Regions from separate parts of the Homo sapiens genome. Here all the other regions are linked to region 1. Evidence: fine-mapped expression QTL. A gene starts in region 1. Each other region holds a variant in brackets. All regions are shown on one strand. Distances are from middle to middle.

Region 1 (5,000 bases):
ATAGGAGAAATAAAATTGCAGTGGAAGGGTTGAAGAATACAGACAAGGAAATCTCCCAGATGATAAAGGAAAGGACACAGAGATAGGAAAGAAGAGAGAGAAAGCTGAGAAAATCAGAAGAACAGGGCCGGGCATGGTGGCTCACGCCTATAATCCCAAGCACTTTGGGAGCCCGAGGTGGGAGGATCACTTGAGCCCAGGAGTTTAAGGCCAGCCTGGGCAACATAGTGAGACCATCTCTACAAAAAAAATTTTTTAAATAAGCTAGGTGTGGTGGCATGCGCCTGTGGTCTCAGCTACTTGGGAGGCTGAGGCCGAGTAGCCTACTTGGGAGGATCACTGGAGCCCAGGAGTTCAAGGCTGCAGCGAGCTACAATGGCACCACTGCACTCCAGCCTATCCCTAAAAAAATTTAAAAATAAAAACAAATGCCTGACTCACTGGAGAAGGCACTGTCTCGGATGCCAGGGGTGCTGAGTGCAGGAGCTGATGGGGCAGCAGTGCTAGTGGCCGGGGTGCTGTCAGGAAGCACCACCCTGAAAGGAAGTGAAAAGGGCCGGTGAGCAAGGGGGGACGCACAGCCTCAGCCCTCACCTCCCACCTCCCACCTGGCCACTCACAGGTAGCCTGGGTTGTGATAGTCGTCCTCATCCTCATCCGCATCCTCACAGGCTGGTTCTGGGGGTAACGACACAGGGGTCAGCCTAGTCCAGGACGGACCCCAGACTCCCCACCCAGCCTGGGCACCTCGGATCCCAGACGCACCCTCGTTCTCGTAGCTCGCCACACTGTTGGCTTCAAAGAGAGGGTGAGAGGGAGACTAAGTCAGCTCAGGCCAGGCCTATCTTCTTCCCAGCCCCCGCCGCCTGAACCCTTCCCCACACTTACCACCATCAGAATCCCGCCGGGAAGATGGCGTCCGGTGGGAGCCCCCAAGGGGCTGCGGGGATCTTCTGGGAGTCAAAGGTCAGGGGTCATGCCTGAGGTGGGGCTCAGGGGGCAACAGCAGTTGCAAAAGGGAAAGGGGCCCCCAATCCAAAAAAGTGAAGGGGTAGAGAGTGGAGTTTGGAGGGGGAGGGGCTGAGCTTTGGAGGGGCAGGGGCTGAGCAGCTACTCACGGGATGGGGAGCAGGTCTGGCTGGCTCAGGGGTGGGTAGGAGGTGACAGGTGGGTAGGCAGGTGGCCAGGGGGCAACCGTGTCTGAGGACACAGAACCAAGTTGAAAGAAGGACTCCGGACATCGTCAAGGCCTCAAAGAACAGACTAAGCCCCTGAAAGCCCCACACCCTGGACAGGCCTGGGGGAGCCATCTCCCCTCTCCCAGCTCAGGTCAAGGCCATGTGGGCAGCCCCAAGGTGGCAGGGGAAGTCTGAAGGTTCACGCTCACTCCCACACCAGGGGACCCTCTCCCTGGCACCCAAGGTAGGGGACCCTCCTTGTACTCACGAGGCCGTTTGAACTGGATGCCCCTTGGATACAAACTGGTAAAGGAGACACAGCTTGGGGATGGGGCTGGAAGATGGAGGATGGAAGCCCCAGCCCTGCCCCGCCATGGGGTGTGGAGGGAGACCCAGGGCGGCTGGGGCGGACTCACCTATCTGAGGATGTGCTGTCGTAGGAGCCTGGGAAAGAGAGGGCTGGTGAGGCAGGAACAGGGGGTGCTTAGGGCAGAAGGTGCTGGGATCCAGGGACTCTCAGAGGCGCTGGGATCAGGACGGAGGCAGGGACAGAGCCAGGACAGACACAGGGGCTGGGAGTGGATGAGGATCCCGTCGGTGTCCCTGGGCCCTGGGTACCCCCACCAGTTTCCCACTCACCTGGCAGTCTGTGGCAGTGCACACACAGTGCCATCAACATGGCCAGGATGGGCAGCAGCAGGAGCCCCAGCACGCAGGGGACCAGGATGGCCTCCTCCATCTGCAGGGGAGCTCGGAGCAGGCTGGCTGCACCCCTAGGCCCCTCAAGGGCAGAGTCAAGGCCAGATGAAGATGGGGTGAGGACCGGACCCGGCAGGGAGCAGGGGGCAGGTAGGCACCAGGTGGCAGGGGAGCCCGGGAGGAGGCAGCTGTGCCCTCCCCGGGGCTCCCGGGATGGGTCCCCTCTTTTACTGGGCTGAGTGTGCGTCCAGCTGACTGTGGAAAGTCCCTGCTCCCAGGGTGGTCAGACCAGGGCCTGGGCTGAAGTCGGGGGATCCAGTTACCCCTGCGTCCCAGCCCTACCTGCCCCTCCTCGGCGCCCGCCTCTCCGTGCCCGCCCTCCCGCCCGCCTGCGGCAGGAAGCTGTGGTGAGCGCCGGGCGAGGGCAGGAAATCATCAAGCTCTCAGCCGGCTGCACCCGCCCCCTTCCCACCCCACCCGCCAGTGGGGAGGGGGCAGGAGGAGGCCCGGGAGCCACCCCAGGCACTCACCAAGGGTCTGCTGGCCCCCCCCAAGACGGGGACAGCCACCTGCCAGCTGGCAGCCGTGGCCTCCATATCCAGGACCCGGGGAGGCAGCGAGCAGGGAGGCCCTGACAGTGGGAATTCTGGGGTACAAAGGGCAGTGCCCACCCCCACCTCAGCCAGGCCTGTGAGGCAAGGGACAGGCTCCAGGGAAGCAGGGGCGTGACTCACGGTCACACTCAGCCAGCTCACTCGGAGAAGAGCAGTCCCCCATCTCAGTCGCCCAGCCCAGAAGGGCAGAGACTCACCCAGAGCCCTGAGGAATGACCCACAGTCTTCAGGAGCCCTGGGGTGAAGACGGGGTGCAAGATCAGAGGCCACCCAGAGAAAGACGAGAGCAGGCACCTGGGGTCTGGCTACAAATTTTATTCCGTTACAAATAGCACCGAGCCCTTGGGGCTGCCCCTGTGGAGAGGGATCCCCCTCCTGGACCCCCACCTCCTCCCCTGAGCTACCCAGGTAGTGTCTGGGAGCTGGCACACGGCCCAGGGTCCCTCTGGAAGCTGGGCCAGGCCAAGGGGTTAGGCCCAGGCCCTTCGTGGGGTGGGCCCAGGGCCAGCTGTGGCAGATGTGCAGGTAGGTGAGCGGCAGCCTCTCAGATGAGCACACTGGCCACGGGCACGCGGGTGGAGCGGCCCCGCTGGGGCACCACAATCCGGTCGTCTGTGGACCCTGCTTCGTGCAGCAGGCCTGAGGGGGGAGGGTCAGAGCCAGGGTGAGCTGGATGGACAGACAGACAAAGCCAGAGAAGGGCAAACAGGCAGCGGGAAATGGATGGGGCAGCCACAGAGCCACCCCAGGGGTGGATGCAGACAGACTGGAGGCCAAACAAGGGGAGGGCTGTGGACTGAGCTGCCAGGTGCACAGGAGTGGGCAGACAGATGGACAGACAGACAGGCAGATCAAGAAGCTGGGCCGGGCACAGCTCCTAACTGACCCTGCACGTGCAGCTGTGCCCGCCGGCGGTCGGCCTCAATGAAGATGGCGGTGCCCAGGAAGGCTGCGCCGCCCAGTGCCCCAACAAACGCGCAGAGCATGAGCGAGAACTGCAGAGCCCGGAACTCGGACAAGAAGGAGGGGGGCCAGTTCCGGCGCAGGCGGTCAGAGATCTGCAGGGAGAGGAGACAGGAAAGCCAGGGGAGTCAGCCTCATGGATGAACCAGGGAGGGCACGCCCCTGAGCTCCAGGGAGAAAGACAAGTGGAGCCCAGGAAAGGGAAGGAGGTTTGAGCTAGATGCAGTGGCTCATGCCTATCATCCCAGCTACTCAGGAGGCTGAGGTGGGAGGATCGCTTGAGCCCAGGAGGTCGAGGCTGCAGTGAGCCATGATCGTGCCACTACACTGCAGCCTGGGCAACAGAGTGAGGTCTTGTCTCAGGAAGAAAAGAAAAGAGAAAAGAAAGGAGGAGTTTGGACCACCAGGGTGAGGTCCCTGGCCTTACTGGTAGAAATATTCAAAGACAAAATCTTTCTCCTCCAGTTGACAATGGAAGGTGAGAAGTGCCCAGCACGCAGGACACAGACACTTCACTAGGGCCAGGCCTTCTGATCCAGCCCAGGCTCAGGACACCAGCCACCCCATGCCAGCCAAGAAATAATGCTCACCAGGCCAATGAGGTAGGGGCTCCCAGCATCACCCAGCAGGTGGGACAGCACGATCTGGAAGGCCTCGGCGGTGGAGCGTCGGGTAGGGATCACCACGTACTGTGGAGGAGTTGGTGGAGCTCAGTGGATGCTCTGGGCTCCAGGGGGCAGGAGGCAGGGGGCCAGGAGACCACCAAGGATCCGCCTAGGCCGGGGTCAGAGGTGTGCCTGGGGTTGAGGTCGCAGGGCAGGCCGGGGGTCTGCTACAGATGTTATTTATTGCAGAAGGTAGGTTGAGGCTGGGCTTTGAGGGGTAGAGGCAACACTCCTGACCCCAACTCTGCTCTCATCAGCCTCTGCGCTGACCCTGGAGCTGCCCAGCAACTCACCAGCAGAATGTCGGCCACGATGGCCCAGTTCATGGACAGGAGGGTCTCTCCAATGAAGATGAAAATCTGGGGGAAGAGAGGGTCGGGGGTTCATGACAGTAAGGGCTAACACATGGAAAGTTGACCATGTTCCCAGCTCATCTATTAACTAATTTAATCCTCATCACACCCCAGTGAGACAGGTGCTACTAATATCCCCATTTTACACATGATGAAACTGAGCACAGAGAGGTTAAGTCACTTGTCCAATGTCACACAGCTGGGAAGAGCCAGAGCTGTGATTCAAAACCAGGCATTCCACCTCGAGTGGCCATTACGCTGACTGCTCCTCCACCCTGGACCCACGCCATCCCCCTTGACACCTGCTGGCTACTCACATAAGTGGCCACGATGCTACCACGGGCGCAGGCAAGGGACAGGAAGAGGAAGGGTGCAGAGCCCAGGAGGCCAGTGGCACAGACCAGGGGATCAGCCCGGGGGTTGGAGTGGCGGAGCCGGCGGCTGATCTCCACACCCAGGCCCACACCCAGGACTCCGGTCAGGCAGGTGATGAGTCCAAAGATGAGACTAGGGGTGAGGGAAGGGAAT
Region 2 (10,938 bases), 870 kb after region 1:
TTACTTTTTTAGTTATCTGAGTTCCACATGAATACATGCTCACTGTGAAAAAGTAAAATATCATTCAGATTTCCAGACTAAAAAGTTGTGATACCTCTGAAACATTTTCCTTCGCGCGGTAAGCACAGTTGGGCAGTGGTTGTGCAGGCACACCTCATTTTATTGCACTTCCCTTTATTGCGCTTCACAGAGACTGTGTTTTTTACAAGTTGAAGGCTTATGGCAACCCTGCATCAAGCAAATCTGTCAGCACCATTTTTTTGACAGTATTTGGTGCTTCCATGTGTTACATTTTGGTAATTGTTAGAATATTTCAGACTTTTTTGTTACTATATCTTACAGCGATTTGTGATCAGTGATCTTTAATGTTACTATTGTAATTATTTTGGAGTGCCACAAACCAAAGACTGCAAACTTGATTGATAAATGTGTGTGTTCTGACTGCTCCACTGATTGGAGGCTTCCCCATCTTCCTGTCTTTAGGCCTCCCTATTCCCTGAGCCATTTAATAACCCTACAATGACCTTTACGTGTTCGAGTGAAAGGAAGAGTCACATGTCTCTTACTTTAAATAAAAATCTAGAAATGATTAAGCTTAGTGAGGAAGGCGTGTCAAAAGCCAGGATAGGCCAAAGGCTCTTTTTTTTTTTTTTTTGTCGTTTTTGTTGTTGTTGAGATGGAGTCTCGCTCTGTCGCCCGGGCTGGAGTGCAGTGGCGTGATCTTGGCTCACTGCAAGCTCCGTCTCCCGGGTTCACGCCATTCTCCTGCCTCAGCCTCTTGAGTAGCTGGGACTACTGGCGCCTGCCGCCTTGCCTGGCTAATTTTTTTGTATTTTTTGTAGAGACGGGGTTTCACCATGTTAGCCAGGATGGTCTTGATCTCCTGACCTCATGATCTGCCCGCCTTGGCCTCCCAAAGTGCTGGGATTACGGGCGTGAGCCACCGCGCCCGGCCTGGCCAAAGGCTCTTGAGCCAAACAGCCAAGTTGTGAATGCAAAGGAAAAGTTCTTGGAGGAGATTAAAATTTCTGCTTCAGTGAACACATGAGTGATGAGAAAGTACAACAGCCTTGTTGTTGATATGAGGAAGGTTTCAGTGGTTTGGATAGACCAAGCTAGCCACAACATTCCCTTAAGCCAAAGCCAAATCCAGATCAGGCCCTTCAATTCTGTGAAGGCTGAGAGAGGTGAGGAAGCTACAGAAGAAGAGTTGGAAGCTAACACAGGTTGGTTCATGAGGTTTAAGGAAAGAAGCCATCTCCAGGATGAAGCAGCAAGTGCTGATGGAGAAGCTGCAGCAAGTTCTCCAGAAGTTCTAGATCACTGCTGAAGGTGGCCATACTAAACAACAGATTTTCTGTGTAGATGAGACAGCTTTATACTGGAAGAAGGTGCCATCTGGGACTTGGATAGCCAGAGAGGAGGAGTCAGTGCCTGGCTTCAGAGGACAGGCCAACTCTCTTGTCAGGGGGCAACTGCAACTGGAGACTTCAGGTTGAAGCCAGTGCTCATGTATCATTCTGAAAATCCTAGGGCCCTTAGGAATTATGCTGAATCTACTTTGCCTGTCTCTATAAATGGAACAACAAAGCCTGAATGACAGCACATCTGTTTACATCATGGTTTACTGAATATTTTAAGCTCATTATGGAGACCTGCTCAGAAAAAAAGATTCCTTTCAAAATCTGCTGATTGGCAATGCACCTGGTTACCTAAGGACTCAGATGGAGATGTTCAAAGATATTAGTTTCCATAGTTTCCATGGCTGCTCACACAACATCCATTCTGTAGTTCTGTAGCCCATGGGTCAAGGGGTAATTTTGGCTTTCAAGTCTTACTGTTTCAGAAATACGTTTCATAAGACTATAGCTGCCATAGATGGTGGTTCCTCCAGTGGATCTGGGCAAATAAACTGAAAACCTTCTGGGAAGGATTCACCATTCTAGATGCCATTAAAGACATTCATGATTCATGGAAGCAGATCAAAATATCAGCATTAATGGGAGTTTGGAAGAAGTTGGTTCCCAGCCTCATAGATGACTTTAAGGGGTTCAGGACTTCAGTAAAGAAAGTAACTGCAGATGTGGAAATAACAGGAGAACTAGAGGCGGAGTCTGAAGATGGGATGGAATTGCTGCAATCTCAGGATCAAGCTTGAACAGATGGGGACTTGCTTCTTGTAAATGACCAAAGAAAGTGGGTTTTTGAGATGGAATCAACTGGTGAAGATGCTGTGAACATTGTTGAAATAACAGAGGATTAGAATAACACATAAACTCAGTTGATGAAGCAGCAGCAGGGTTTGAGAGGACTGACTCCAACTTTGAAAGAAGTTCTACTGTGGGCAAAATGCTATGAAACGGCACCGCATGCTCCAGAGAAATATTTCATGAAAGGAAGTCAATCGATGCAGCAAACTTCATTGTTGTCTTATTTTAAGTAATTGCCACAGCCACCCCAACTTTGAGCAACCACCACCCTGTTCAGTCAGCAGCAGTCACTTTCAAGGAAGACCCTTCACCAGCAAAAAGATTACCGCTCTGAAGGCTCAGATGATTGTTAGCATTTTTAGCAATAAACTACTTTTTAACTAAGATATGTACATTGTTTTCTTAGACATAATGCTTATTGCACACTTTATAGACTATAGTGTAAACAAAACATATGCATTGGGAAACAAAAAAATTAGTGTGCCTTGCGTTATTGCATAATTTGCTTTATTGTGGTGGTCTGGAGCTGAACCTGCAGTATCTCTGAGGTATGCCTGTATATCCTTCCAGACTTTTTTCTCTTTTTATGTAATAAGTAATAACTAAGTTTGTAGATAGCTGGAGATATAGCTGCTTTTGCCTAACAGTATGCCTTCATTTTCCTTTACATATGTACAGCAACTTCAGATTGTCAAAATGTCCAGTGGTTTTTTTTTTTTTTTTTTGTGAGGATGTATAATAATTTTCCTATTGCTAGAAATGAGTTCCTTTTATGTCCATCTTACATATGCTAGTGGGCCTGAAGGATAGATTCCTGGAAGTGGAATTACTGAGTCAAAGGTTATATCCATGTTAAAACTGGACAGATTCTATTATGTTATCCTCCAAGTCTGCTATATTACTAGAGCATATATGTGTTTATTCTTTGAATTTTTTTGTAGTTTTAGTCATACATAACATTTTATACATTTTTAAACAGTGTATTGTTTTAATAACAATGTGTTGCTTTCCATAAATTTATGTTGTATTTATAATTATAACTTTGAAAATAGTCCTATCCCATCAGGAATATGTTTCATTATTTTCCTAGCCATTGCTGGACTTCTAGGCTGCCTCCCTTAAAAAATAAAAAATTATAAAGAATTCTGAAATGCACACATTCATGAATGTAGCTTTACCCTTTTAGGTAATCTTCTTAGAGTAAGTATTATAGGTTATAGGTAATCTTAGAGTAAGGGTTAAAGGTTAGGAATATTTTGTGACTTTGGGAAATCATAGTAATTTTTTTCCCGAAGTAATTCTGCCTGCCTTGACTTTTTGGTGTGCTGTTTTTATCTTAGTCTTACCAGCATTAGGTCCCATCTGTAACACGTTTTTCTCCTTTGCTAATTTGAAAGCAACAGTGGTAATTGAACCAAGTATTTGATAGGCATGCTGAAGGGAAAGCAGTAGGAGAGACTGGCCTGAGTGTTAAGGCACAGAAGAGTCGGGGGCTCGGGGAGATCTTGGCTCTGCTGGAACAATTAGTGAGGTGAAGAATTCTAGGACCTGGATGACATGCCAGGGAGTGTGATTTAATAGCTGATAGGGAGCCACTGCAGACTCTAAGCTGAGAAGTGCCTGAGTTCAAGGCTGCTGGTGACTGTGAAGGAGGAACGGGAGGAGGTGATAATGGCTGCGGCAGGAGCTGTGGACATGACAGAGAAGATGGGCTTCTCTTGTAGTCATCATAGGAAAAATTCTTGAGCTAGATAGGGCCTAGGTGGTGTAATTTGGAAACCAAGAATGACACATAGCTTGTGGCTGCCTCAGCAAAGTTCGAATCCCAGTCTTACAGGGATGTGGTGAGCTGACGTGCCCTCTTCCCTCTGCAGGTCCAAGACAAGCTGCTGCTATCTGCGTGCCACTTACTGGTCTCACTGGCCACCACCGTGCGGCCCGTCTTTCTGATCAGCATCCCTGCAGTGCAGAAAGTATTCAACAGAATCACTGATGCCTCTGCCCTGCGACTTGTCGATAAGGTGAGGCCCCAGAGCTCCCCCGGGGTCCCCAGGGCTGTGTGACTGAGACCCAAGGAAGCTGAGGAAGAAGAGTCTGGCCTTTGATTTTGTACTCAGAGCTTACAGGCTGTACCAGCATAGACAGATTTCTTATTGTGTGGCACTGACACAGACTCAGTGATTCTCATCGTGCCCATTCTAAGGCAGGCAGTCAGTGTGCTGATTGAGGCGTGGAAAAGCACCTCCCAGTGTGCAGAAAGGTTTTGCTGCTTTGCAGCCTGGTAATTTCGGCCAGTGTTGTGAGAATTCTCTTTGCATTCTTTCTGATTCAAAGCAGTCTGGTTTTTGTTGTCACTGTTCTGTGTGTGTTCTTTGGGGTTGAGAAGTGCCAGGCAAGTGCATTTTCTTAGAATCCTCAAAGGAGGCTCAAGCTAGAAGTTTAAAAACCACCTAACAGGAGGGAGGGCAGGAAGGTTTGAAGAGGGTACCAGAGGGCACCAGGATGTGATTGCAGGATGTGACCTGGTGCTAGGGGCATGGATTGTCACGGATTCTCCTGCAAGTCCTGCTCTAAGTAGCTTCTCAGAGGACTCAGAAGCCACCAGCTGAACAATGCCTGAGATTCAGTGTCTGCAGTGTGATTTTTCCCTCTCTAATACTTCAAGTATCAGATTAGAGAGGAAACGAGAGGTTAGCTCTGGGTTATGCTAGACCTAGACATGGTGCTATTACTTCATTTCATCTTCCTCCCTAAGTTGCCTTCCAGTTGGACCAAAGGCCTTGCCCAGGTTGCAAGAAACGAGCCTGGGGGCTAGGGTTCCAGGTGTGCAGCCAG[C/T]GGGTGCTGAAGGCTGTGTTGGGCATGCCGCACCACGGTCTTTGGCTCTGACCTCTGATGGATGCCTTTGGGGTCTCTTGTAGGCCCAGGTGTTGGTGTGCCGAGCCCTCTCTAACATCTTGCTGCTTCCGTGGCCAAACCTTCCAGAGAATGAGCAGCAGTGGCCCGTGCGCTCCATCAACCACGCCAGCCTCATCTCTGCACTCTCCCGGGACTATCGCAACCTGAAGCCCAGTGCTGTTGCCCCACAGAGAAAGATGCCACTGGATGACAGTAAGTGACCCCTAGGCTAGGACAGCTGGGGAAGGAGGTAGGCAGGCATTGTTCTTTGTGGCAGATGAGATTTGCCCCGGAGGCTCCTGAGGTAAATTTTTTTTGTTCATAGTCCCACAGAGGCTGAGCAGGAAGTCATACTTGGGGGTGGGATCCTGCTACCTTTGGAATTCAGTTAAGACAGCAGCCAGACCTATTTCCAGAATCAAACTGTCCCTTCTCTTATTTAAAATGTAAAAAATGCTGGAGCCCTAAGAAAAAATGGAAGACACTGGTGATGGTGCCTTCTGTCTATAAAATACATCTTAAGGTGGTTATTGATCTATTTCAGATGCTTGTGTAGGCAAACAAAGCAGTTCACCTCTACACGCTGGGAAAATGCGCTCAAGAACTATTTTTCCAGATTGGTTTCAACCTTTTTCCAAATACAGATCTTCCAGAGGTTTTGAAAGAGCTTAGTTTCTTAAAAAATGGCACTTGAAGTTTGCTTGTTTATATTAAAGAAAGAGGGAAAAAAATGAATAAGGAAATATCTCTTTGAAATAACAAATAGTACCGAAATATTTTAAAAATACGAGCTCCTTTCACAAAAAGAAAATAATAGAACATTATTAGATGGTGCCATTTATGGAATGTCAGCAAAAATGCTTTGTGAAATGTCAGAAATAGTAATAAATACTATACTCTTTAAAAAACACTACTTTTATAACTAGGAAGATTAACATATGTGCATTGTACAAATACATTAAAATAGAATAATACAAAGAAGGAAAAAGTAACTCCTAAATCTGACCAGTTTTAATATTTTAGAAAGTAACCATTTTAACCATGCTTCCTTCTTACCTTCCCTTTTCTATTTTAAAATATGCTTCATGGTTACATAGCTGGATGAGAGTAGCTGACATATTGAGGGTATACTGTGTACTAGGCTCTTGCCTTGGTGATTCTATATCCATCGTCAAGTCTCTGGCTATGCCAGTATCAACTTTCAAAGTCTGGTGTTGGTCTCTTCCTGGTTCTAAGTATTTTTCAAAAATCAGTAATTCATTCAGTTCTTACATTAGCCTTATGAGTTCGGTACTGTTAGGATCTTGATTGATGATTAGCATGAGGAAGCTGAGGTCTAGAAGATTAAGGAACTTGCCCAGGGCTTGCATCCAGCTGTTGTGGAGTCATGCTTTATCACGTGTAATGGTCTCCTTTCCGCACTTTATCTTACATGGGAGTTATGTTGGTCTGCATGGGCGAGGATATGCTCAGTGGTAACAAACAACTCCAAAAGTGTAGTGGCTTAATACAAGAAGAAAAAGGATATGTTGTTTGTACTATATGTCCAGCTTGGGTCAGCAGAGTGGGGAGGTCACATAGGGACCCAGGCTGTGGAAGGCTCCATTTCAGTGTGTTCACTCTGGAAGGGATTGTGGTGAATTGCGTAGTGGTTCTTAAAGGTCTTGCCTGAAACTAACACTACTTCCACCTCTATTTCCTTGGCCAGAGCCAGCTACATGGCCTTGGCTTAACTCAGAGGGCAGGGAGGTGTGATGCCACTGTGTGCTGAAAGGGTTTGCAGTGTAGTATGTGAATGACGTCTTCAGTATGCTGACTGTGTGCAGGCACTGGGTTGAGCACTTTGTATACGTTATTTCATGTAACTTCCTGTGTAACCCTGTAACCCTGTGAGGTATGTCTTATCCTCATTCCACAGTGTTGAAATTAAGGTTGGAAAGTTTCATTTTTCTTATCTCAACTTTATACTTTGAAAAAAAAAAATTCCAAACCTACAGACTAGCCAAAGGAATAAGAAAATGAACAACTGCATCTCTCTCACCCAGATTCACTAATTGTGAATGTTTTGCCACATTTATGCTTTTTTCTGCAACACACTTTTTCTTAAAAGCCAGCTGTTTAAGTTGCAGATAATTGACACTTCATCTCTGACTACTTAACCTTTGTATCTATATAGAACAAGATATTAAACATTGGTACAATAATGTTATTTAAAATGTAGCCATATTAACACTTTCCCCAGTTGTTACCAAATTGTTCTTTTTTGCTTTTAAAAAATCCAGGATGTAATCTAGGATAGTTTTATTGTGTTTGGTTGTTATATCTCTTTAGTCTCCTTTGATCCAGAAGAGCATGCCCAGTTTTTGTCTTTCGTGACATTGGCATTTTTGAAGCGTCCAGGCCTGTTTTCTTGTCATATGTCTCCTAGTCTTGTTTTGCCTGATTGTTTCCATAGGTTGTGGTGTAGTGGTGCATGTTCGTGTTCGCATTTCCTCTTGCATTGCTTCTGTTTGTCCCATCCTTGGTGATGCTCAGTCTGGATGCCTGTTGGGAGTAGGGCCTGCCAGTCTGTCCATTGGGAAGGTGCTTGGCAGGTGTAATTGCTCAGGACTGTAGAGAAAGTGGGCGAGGTCAAGAGTTGGACTTGGGTCTGAATGGCTCCAGCTCCTGTGTTCTGCACCACTTTGCTGCATTGCCTCTTTCTTCTTGAAAACAAAAAAAAAAAAAAGAAAAGAAAAAAGGTTTTAATGGTTTTATAATGTCCTGTCTCATGGAAGTATAACAGTTACCCACCCCATTCTCCTATTATTATATACTTATAGTGCTTTCAATTTTTGACTTGTATTTTTTTTAAATACATCTTTTGTCCTCGTTTGAATTTCCTTAAATGCCAGAGGTCAGATTTTGGTCTCTTGACTGTTGGTTTTTTGCTCTAAACTGCTTCCCCTGTTGCCTGTGCGTTCTTGAGGAAGTGGCTGCCCTGAGTGCAGTTTCCTAGCTGAGTAGAAGTCCATGTGCTTGTAGTTGTGGACGGCTCCCTGCTCAGCAGTGTGGGTGAGCCTTTCCTTTACTCTCCAGTGTCACTGTGACTGGGGGACCAGGACCAGGCCTGTGGCGAGAAGCGTCTTCCTTCATCCTCAGCCCTGTGAGTGGGGCGATGCTCTCTATCCACGTGTTCAGATGAGGGGCAGCAGGGCCAGGCCTGCCTCCATCTGCCTCCTGAGCATGTCTTCTTTCTGCCGTACCCCTTCCTCAAAGCTGCGGCAGTCCCACAGAGGCTGCTGAGCACTGGGGTTCGGGGGACCCAGAGACTGCTGCCAAGTGGGAGGCAGCTCTCAGCCCAGCTCTGGCTCAGCCTCTGGTGGTCGCCAGGGTTGAGTCTGCTAGGCTCAGGCTGAGCCATGGGCGTCACTTTGGGGAGGCTGGTGGGAAACTCTGCATCTTAAGAGGGTGACTCCACTCGCGCTGGGAACAATGGCAGCATCTCCGTCCTGGACCTTCTTAGATGGCTGGCACACTGCTAGCATCGTTCGGGACCTTGTCTCTAATCCCCACTGCAGCACTGCCAGAGTGGGGTTGTCGGCTCTCCCAGATGGATGAGGGTCCTGCCCATGGCACATAGCCTTCAGATGGTCACCTGTGGTTCATAGCCAGGGCTCTCTGACCTCTGCCTGTTTGCGGCCCACTACATCTGTTTTCCCTGTGTGCCATATGGAGTCAAAAGTCATCTCAGGGTTAGCATTATGTATTGTCAATAACATAATAACAGTAATTATATGCCTTATCAAGCTACGGGGCTAATAGGCCAAAGATGGATCAGGCAGGTTGTTCTTGCAGCCAGCACCATTACATGTGCATGGCAGGTGTTTGTGGGATTACTGGGCTGGAGTAGCATCCCACTGAGTGACAAGGTTTGAGCTGCATGTGTCCGTCCTGGCCTGTGACCTTATGACACTCATTTTCTCACCAGTCTATTCACCATCTTTTAGATTTGATTAAATCCAAGGCACCCAACCTGGGGGTACATTTATTTATCTTTTTTCTTCTGTGGACTTGTTGCCAATGGCCAGAGGCAAAACAGAGGCAAAAACCTGAGCAAGCAGGCAGGCAGGCATCTTCTCCCCAACACACATTCCAGGCTTCTGGAGTCCTGGCAGTAATAATAGTAAAAACAAAAACTAAAACATAAAGAGAGGAGAATTTATATTGTAATCAAGAGACTGTTCCTTTAGTGAGACTCGTGTGATCATCTTCTTGGTACCTTTGCAAGTTTCCTCCCTCTCCCTTGTGTCTCCTCTTACCATGCTTTCTCCCCAGACAGCTTATAACCTGCAACTCATCTTGATTTGCAGCCAAACTGATTATCCACCAGACACTCAGCGTCTTAGAAGATATTGTGGAGAATATCTCGGGGGAGTCCACCAAGTCTCGACAGATTTGCTACCAGTCGCTGCAGGAATCTGTTCAGGTCTCCCTGGCCCTCTTTCCAGCTTTTATCCATCAGTCAGGTAGGAGCTGGCCCAGAGGCCCCACTGGTGGGTGGTGCTAACAAGGGCCAGAATACCCACTTAGATCTGTAGAACACACTGAGTCGGTGCAGTACAGGCCTTGACTTGTTCCGTGCAACGAAACCCGGTACTGAGGGGAAAGGGCAGTGATGTTTATTTGTGGAGTCTAGGGCCAAGGCCCTTTGGAAAAGTGAGCAGAGCTCTCCATATGGGCCTTGGCACCTACAAGAGAAGGCAAGAGAGCTTTTTTGGCTTAGTTCTCCTTATTTTGTGGCAAGGTGCATTTGCCGAGATCGTTCCCCTCACCCTTGTCTGTCACTGTCAGTGATAGAGGGCCTCTCTAGCTCTGTGGATGTACTTGCCTAGCTCTCATGACAGCATTATAGTAGTCTTGTCAGTTTTACAAGAGAAATATCAGGCACTTCTCAGTCAGCAAATATTCATTGCCTCTTGCAAGCAGATTGCGTGCAGTTAGGGCTGAAACACACTACACAAGATGATTGTTGAGATCTGGAAGTGAAACTGCCCTATATGTAACCAGTATTTTCTGCAATTAATCCATTTAATGGACCAGGGCCATGCAACCTAAATACACCTTCATTATCCACTTTCAACCACTTAACCCCTGACCCAGCTGCAGGGATTATTAGTCATAGGGGGAAATGGCTTAAGCACTCAGGTGTTGACCCAGTTGGCATTCATCAGTGTGGGCACAAAGTGATCCCTCTCCAGTGAAACTCTGACCATCACTGGATGTCGGGCAATGAGGGAGGGTTCGAGATGACCTTCATTTCCTGTAGTGAGCCACCAGGTGGAGGTTCCCTATACCAGAACTATTTTCTCAGCATGTCCCTAATCGTTTTCCACTTTCCATCATTGGCCCTGATGGTGTTGGGGAAATGTTTCCAGCAGGAAGCTGTAGAGAAAGCTGATAGTGCAGATTTCAGGAGTAGGTTGATGAAGCCCAGGGTTCTGGTTCTCACTGTGTGCAAGCCTCTGACGATATCTCTGCCCCTTTCCTCAGATGTGACTGATGAGATGCTGAGCTTCTTCCTCACTCTGTTTCGAGGCCTTAGAGTACAGATGGGTGTGCCTTTCACTGAGCAAATCATACAGACTTTCCTCAACATGTTTACCAGGTAAGCACAGACCCACCATCTATAGTTTTCAGATTCAAGGGAGAAGTGGTGGGTCTGGCGACAAAGTGTGGCTTTTTGCTCCTGTTCTGCACTTGCCACAGCATGGGTTTTCATGCTGGCCCCCAGAGAAACATGTGGTTGCTCACTGTGTGGCTTTCTCCTCTGTAGAGAGCAGTTAGCCGAGAG
Region 3 (6,659 bases), 140 kb after region 1:
CACCGTGGTGACAGGTACACTAGAGCGTGGCATTTTAAAGAAGGGAGACGAGTGTGAGCTCCTAGGACATAGCAAGAACATCCGCACTGTGGTGACAGGTTTGGGAAGCCAGTCTGGAGAGCAGGGCCTGGCTGAAGGGTGGCCTTACCCCGGCAGATCCCTTGTGCCTTCCCTCTGTCTCACATTCGCCTTCCTTCTCCCTGCTCCTTTTCCCTTTCCGTCCTAGGCATTGAGATGTTCCACAAGAGCCTGGAGAGGGCCGAGGCCGGAGATAACCTCGGGGCCCTGGTCCGAGGCTTGAAGCGGGAGGACTTGCGGCGGGGCCTGGTCATGGTCAAGCCAGGTTCCATCAAGCCCCACCAGAAGGTGGAGGCCCAGGTGAGGGCTCCAGGTGACGGTGGGCAGGGTTGAGCCAAGCTCTCCCCAGCCTCCAGCCAAGCCCAGCTCACCGTCATTGCTTGCTCTCCTCCAGGTTTACATCCTCAGCAAGGAGGAAGGTGGCCGCCACAAGCCCTTTGTGTCCCACTTCATGCCTGTCATGTTCTCCCTGACTTGGGACATGGCCTGTCGGATTATCCTGCCCCCAGAGAAGGTACGGTGGGTGGGAGGAATGTAGGGTGGAGGGGGGACTTTTTATATTACCTTTGCTTCACTCATAGTTCCAAAGATACACTGTGACAACCCGAGTGGCTTTATTTCCTTAGGTGGAAAGGGGCTGCTTGCCGCTGCTAGCCAACAGAAGGGGCATGGCCCATGGACTTAGGGGCGGGAGTCCTCATCCAGTGTGCCCTAAGCTGAAGCAGGTTAAAAGTTTAGCTCTGCCAGCATGTACCCACAGAAAGATTTCCTAGAAAAGGTCTCTTCTTTTTGAGCGTTTCATTATATATGAAGGCTTAAGAAGTTCTGTGACCAAGAAACCTGCATAACCCACAACTTCCTAGACATTTTTTTCTCAAGAACATACCTTAGGAACACTCATCACTGGTCTCTTTTATGTTTTCCTGTCTCAATATGCTGTTTGCATCTGCCTGACAGCCTGGGATGGATGAAGCTGTCCCCAGGCAGAACCATTCCCCTGCTGCATTCTCCCATGACTCTTAACCTCCGAGGTAGCCAAAAAAGACTTAAGGAATGAAGGCACCCTGGAGGCCACGCATGATCCTTCTCTTCCTACTCTAGGAGCTTGCCATGCCCGGGGAGGACCTGAAGTTCAACCTAATCTTGCGGCAGCCAATGATCTTAGAGAAAGGCCAGCGTTTCACCCTGCGAGATGGCAACCGGACTATTGGCACCGGTCTAGTCACCAACACGCTGGCCATGACTGAGGAGGAGAAGAATATCAAATGGGGTTGAGTGTGCAGATCTCTGCTCAGCTTCCCTTGCGTTTAAGGCCTGCCCTAGCCAGGGCTCCCTCCTGCTTCCAGTACCCTCTCATGGCATAGGCTGCAACCCAGCAGAGGGCAGCTAGATGGACATTTCCCCTGCTCGGAAGGGTTGGCCTGCCTGGCTGGGGAGGTCAGTAAACTTTGAATAGTAAGCCAGCCTGTGTCCTGTGTCCTTTGTGCAAATTGGAGAGGATAGGGGAGGACAAAAAGGGTGTTGAACCCCAGACAGATGGGGAGCTTGTGAGATCCCAGAGCAGTTTTAACGGATAAATCAAGTCCAGTGAGCTTAGTGATTGCCTAGACACAGTAGGATGCCGTTATTCAGCCTCCTGGGAGATAGTGGGAAAGAATGTTCTATCGCTCTGGAGCCAGCATGGCTTCAGCTCAGGTGCCAAACCCATCTTGTTTCCTCGGAATACTAAGTGAATGTCTAGCATCCATTCACATTCTGTGGGAACAGGGACTGGACAGGCATACCTCAGATGCTGTAGGTTTGCTTCCAGACTACCACAATAAAGCAGGTCACAAATTTTTTGATTTCTCAGTGAAGTTATGTTTATATTATAGTTGACCCTTGAACAATGCAGGGGTTAGGGGTGTCAGCCCTCCTCCATGCAGCCACAAATCCACATATAACTTGTTTTTGAGATGGGGCCAGCTTTGTGCAGTGGCAGTATCATAGCCAATGACTCCATGATGACTTGAAATATAATCAGCATTGGCAATTTTCGACGGTCTCTATGGGGAGGCTGAACAAAGGGAAAAAAAGAGATATAGGGTCTCACTGTCACCCAGGCTGGGTGCGGTGGCACCATCCTAGCTCACTGCAGCCTTGGACTCCTGGGCTCAACCTTGGTCTCCCCAACTGCTGGGATTAGAGGTGTAAGCTACCGTGTCTGGCTCCTCACATATAACTTGACTCCCCCAAAATGTAACTAGTAACCTGCTGCTGGCCAGAAGCCTCGCTGATAGCATACAAACACATACTTTGTGTGTTATATGTATTATATACTGTATTCTTAAAACTAGAGAGTGGCCGGGCGCGGTGGCTCACGCCTGTAATCCCAGCACTTTGGGAGATTGAGGTGGGTGGATCACAAGGTCAGGAGTTCGAGACCAGCCTGGCCAACATGGTGAAACCCTGTCTCTACTAAAAATACAAAAAAATTAGCCGGGTGTGGTGGCACATGCCTGTAATTCCAGCTACTCAGGAGGCTGAGGCAGGAGAATTGCTTGAATCCAGGAGGCGGAGGTTGCGGTGAGCTGAGATCGCGCCACTGCACTCCAGCCTGGGTGACAGAGCGAGACTCTATCTCAAAAAAAAACAAAAAAACAATAAAACTAGAGAAGGTGTTAAGAAAATCATAAGGAAAATATATTCACTATCAAGTGGAAGTGGATCATCATAAAGGCCCTCATTGTCTTCACGTTTCTTAGGAGGAGGCCAAAGGGGAGACAGGCAGACTCGGTGTAACTTGTATTTGAAAAAATTCACATGTAAGTGGATCTGTGCAGTTTGAACCCCAATCACTTAAGGGTCAACTTATTAAGTGTGTAATGTCTAAGAAAACTTGATTTAAAAATACTTGAGCCGAGGCCAGGCACGGTGGCTCACGCCTGTAATCCCAGCACTTTGGGAGGCCAAGGCAGGCAGATCACCTGAGGTCAGGAGTTCGAGA[C/T]CAGCCTGGCCATTATGATGAAACCCCGTCTCTACTAAAAATACAAAAATTAGCCAGGCGTAGTGGCAGGCGCCTGTAATTCCAGCTACTTGGGAGGCTGAGGCAGGAGAATCGCTTGAACCTGGGAGGCAGAGGTTGCAGTGAGCCAAGATCACACCATTGCACTCCAGACTGGGCAACAGAGTAAGACTCCGTCTCAAAAAAAAAAATTAGCCAGGCATGGTGGCTTGCGCTTGTAGTCTCAGCTACTCAGGAGGCTGAGGCACAAGAATCACTTGAACCCGAGAGGCAGAGGATGCAGTGAGCCGAGATTGCGCCACTGCACTCCAGCCTGGGCGACAGAGTGAGACTCTGTCTCAAAAGAAAAGAAAAAGGCCGGTCGTGGTGGCTCATGCCTGTAATCCCAGCACTTTGGGAGGCCGAGGCAGGCGGATCCCTTGAGCCCAGGAGTTCCAGAGCAGCCTGAGCAACATAGGGAGACTCTGTTTCTATATAAAAAAGAAAAAATAGCCAGGCGCGGTGGCTCACGCCTGTAATCCCAGCATTTCGGGAGGCCGAGGCGGGTGGATCATGAGGTCAGAGTTCAAGACCAGCCTGGCCAAGATGGTGAAACCCCGTCTCTACTAAAAATAAAATTAGCCGGGCGTGGTGGCAGGCACCTGTAATCCCAGCTACTTGGGAGGCTGAGGCAGGAGAATCACTTGAACCAGGGAGGCGGAGGTTGCAGTGAGCCGAGATTGCGCCAATGCACTCCAGCCTGGGCAACACAGTGAGACTCCTTCTCAAAAAAAAAAAAAAAAAAAAGGAAAGAAAAAATAAATTTAAAAAAAGAAAGAAAAAGGCCACTTCTCTAATATGCAGGGAATAAACTATGAGTGAATTTCAAAAACTTGGGAGTGATGACTGGCAAGGATGCCGACACCAAGCAAAGCAAGGCTCGGCAGAGGTTAACAGGCACCCCTATCACAAATGCATCCTGACAAATGAATACACACCCAGGATGGCTAAGATGAGCTCCCAGAAGGGAGGGCTCTTGGGCCCAACTTAAGAGCTGTTTTGAGAAAATGCAAAACCTGATTTTTGACTCCAGAACAGAGGCAAACTAAGGGAAGTGGGTGAGAGAAGAGGAAGAGGGAAGAACTTTGCAAAAAGAAGTCCAATGACAGGGCAGATTTGTCTTCTCCTCAGTGCTCAAGGCAAGGCTGACGGGCTGCCAAGAGGAATTTCTGGCTGGCTGAAGGCTAAGTTCCCTTCCAACTTTGAGATTTCTGCTCAAAGATGGTAAACATACAGTAGTCTCTGCCCTTATCCCTGGTTTCAGTTATCCACTGTCAACACTGGTCTGATTATTTCTGGAATTTTTTTTTTTTTTTTTTTGAGACAGTGTCTGTCACCCAGGCTGGAGTACCGTGGCACGATCTCGGCCCACTGCAACCTCTGCATCCCGGGTTCAAGTGATTCTCCTGCCTCAGCCTTCAAGTAGCTGGGATTACAGGCACCCACCACCACACCTGGCTAACTTGTATTTTTAGTAGAGATGGCATCTCACCATGTTGGCCAACCTGATCTCGAACTCCCGACCTCAAATAATCCACCTTCCTCGGCCTCCCAAAGTATGGGATTACAGGCGTGAACCACCGCACCCAGCTGGAATTTTCTTTTTTTTTTTTTTTTTTTCCTGAGACAGAGTCTCGCTCTGTCGCCAGGCCAGAGTGCAGTGGCACGATCTCTGCTCACTGCAACCTCCACCTCCCGGGCTCAAGCCATTCTCCTGTCTCAGCCTCCCAAGTAGCTGGGCCGACAGGGATGCGCCACTATGCCCAGCTAATTTTTGTATTTTTAGTAGGCAGGGTTTCACCATGTTGGCCAGGATGGTGTCGATCTCTTGACCTCATGATCCACCCACCTCAGCCTCCCAAAGTGCTAGGATTACAGGTGTGAGCCACCGCACCTGGCCTAGAATTTTCTATTTAACAGTTCAGATTTTAAGTTGAGCACCATTCTGAGTAGTATGATGAAATCTTTTGCCATCCTGCTCCATCCATCCTGTCAGGACGTGAACCATCCCTTTGCCTGTTAGTCACTTTAGTAGCCGTGCTGGTTATCAGATTGACCGTTACAGCACTCCAATGATTGTGTTCAAGTAGCCCTGATTTACTCAGTGATGGCCCCGAAGCACAAGAGTATTGTGCCTAATTTAGAAACTAAACCTCATCATAGCTATAGGAAAAAACATAGTATACATAAGGTTTGGTACTATGGGCATCCACTGGGGATCTCAGATCACATCCCCCCCAGATGCGGGCGGACTGCTGTACAATCTGCAGTCCTTCCAGAAAGCATCAAAATGACTACTCAGCTGGGTGTGGTGGCTCACACCTGTAATCCCCAGCACTTTGGGAGGCCAAGGCAGAACTGCTTGAGCCCAGGAGTTCAAGACCAGCCTGGCCAACATAATGGGACTCTGTCTCTTAAAAAAAAAAAAAAAATTGAAAGATTACCCAGTAATACTTGCCATATTTCATAGTAGATACCTGTCTCTCCATCTACACTTCAAATATCCTGAGCCCAGCTGAAGCCTTGCAGCTCCTGCACCACCCCACATCTACCTGCTGAGTGCTCTTGGGACTCCAACCCCGCCCATTTTTAGCATCCAAGTGGCTACCACATAAAGTCCTTTTTTTTTTTTTTTTTTTTAACCTCTTTAATAACCCCTTCTCTCCACCCCACCATGTACACCTATTACCAAGTTCCAAATCTGCATATGCTGGGATTCTTCCCCAATACTGTAGCCTTCACTCTTCCTGTCCTGGTCTCAGCCAGCTTTCTCTGGCTTTGGTGAGAGCTGAAACACCCGTCTACCACTGAGCACCAGCCACTTCCTTAAAATCCTGGAAAGGTGAAATCACCTCCATTTTAGGCAAGGAAACCAAGGTCAAGTCTCCGAGAGAATTCTCAACCTCCTTGAAAAACTACCTCCTCTGGAGCCTGCTGTCATTTCCACATCCCATGCTTCAATCTTCTTGTCCCACCCATAATGCCTAATTTTGCTCTTGCTCCCCAGTAAGCCCAGTTCCCAACCAATCCTCTCCCCTCTTCTCCCACTAACAGCTTCACCTTTACAGCTCTCATCCACAGTCAGCTGCACATCCATCAGGATTTTAATTCCAATGACCATAAACATTCACCCTTCAACATAAAGAGGTGTATGTAATTCATGAGATACTCATATTAGAAATGAAACTTTGAATCACACCTTGAGATGAAGCCAAGTTCAAGATGAGAAAATAGTCACTAGACAGCTGGGTGAGCTATCTATGTAGCAGTTCCAGAGCCAGTCAGGGACAGCATCCTTGGGAACTGTGCCACTGCTGTCCCATCCTGGGAAGCGGACTCCCATCTCACGTGCTTTTAGCCATCCGGTCATCCAGAACCTCAGTCATCAACTACACAACTTCACATGAAGTCTGGAACCCACCTTCAAATGCATGGCACAGGATCCCGATCTGGCTCCCCATCATCCTAGATTTCAAAAACTGGCCACCATTGGTGTGCAATGGAGTGATCTCAGCTCACTGCAACCTCCGCTTCCTGG

Evidence for each region. PIP is the estimated chance that this variant, and not a neighbour inherited with it, causes the effect.
Region 2: its variant is the best candidate, but not a certain one, in a credible set for the expression of LAT in sun-exposed skin (GTEx, PIP 0.72).
Region 3: its variant is the best candidate, but not a certain one, in a credible set for the expression of LAT in whole blood (TOPMed, PIP 0.83).

What each region holds. Positions count from the first base shown.
Region 1 is chr16:28,982,335-28,987,334 of GRCh38, reverse strand. LAT (linker for activation of T cells) reads right to left here and starts at 2,283. Exons shown (of 12, transcript NM_001014987.2): 1 at 1,818-2,283; 2 at 1,595-1,622; 3 at 1,447-1,481; 4 at 1,119-1,200; 5 at 889-953; 6 at 766-795; 7 at 621-678; 8 at 442-536. The coding sequence starts at 1,917. It overlaps SPNS1 (SPNS lysolipid transporter 1, lysophospholipid), which reads right to left. Exons shown (of 12, transcript NM_032038.3): 8 at 4,790-4,979; 9 at 4,413-4,478; 10 at 4,045-4,143; 11 at 3,378-3,549; 12 at 2,792-3,130. The coding sequence ends at 3,036. RefSeq lists silencers at 2,163-2,222, 2,243-2,522.
Region 2 is chr16:28,106,197-28,117,134 of GRCh38, reverse strand. It overlaps XPO6 (exportin 6), which reads left to right. Exons shown (of 24, transcript NM_015171.4): 16 at 4,085-4,231; 17 at 5,129-5,318; 18 at 9,458-9,613; 19 at 10,638-10,752; 20 at 10,921-10,938. It overlaps LOC124903669 (a long non-coding RNA gene), which reads right to left. Exons shown (of 2, transcript XR_007065032.1): 2 at 7,392-7,810. It also overlaps the pseudogene TPRKBP2. Among named protein-coding and RNA genes, the nearest start is that of GSG1L, 48 kb to the right of the region's middle. The variant C/T (reference allele first, on the strand shown) is at 5,046.
Region 3 is chr16:28,837,669-28,844,327 of GRCh38, reverse strand. TUFM (Tu translation elongation factor, mitochondrial) reads left to right here. Exons shown (of 10, transcript NM_003321.5): 7 at 1-98; 8 at 227-378; 9 at 473-592; 10 at 1,180-1,917. The coding sequence ends at 1,353. It overlaps MIR4721 (microRNA 4721), which reads left to right and starts at 321; the gene lies at 321-409. RefSeq lists a silencer at 2,328-2,485. The variant C/T (reference allele first, on the strand shown) is at 3,065.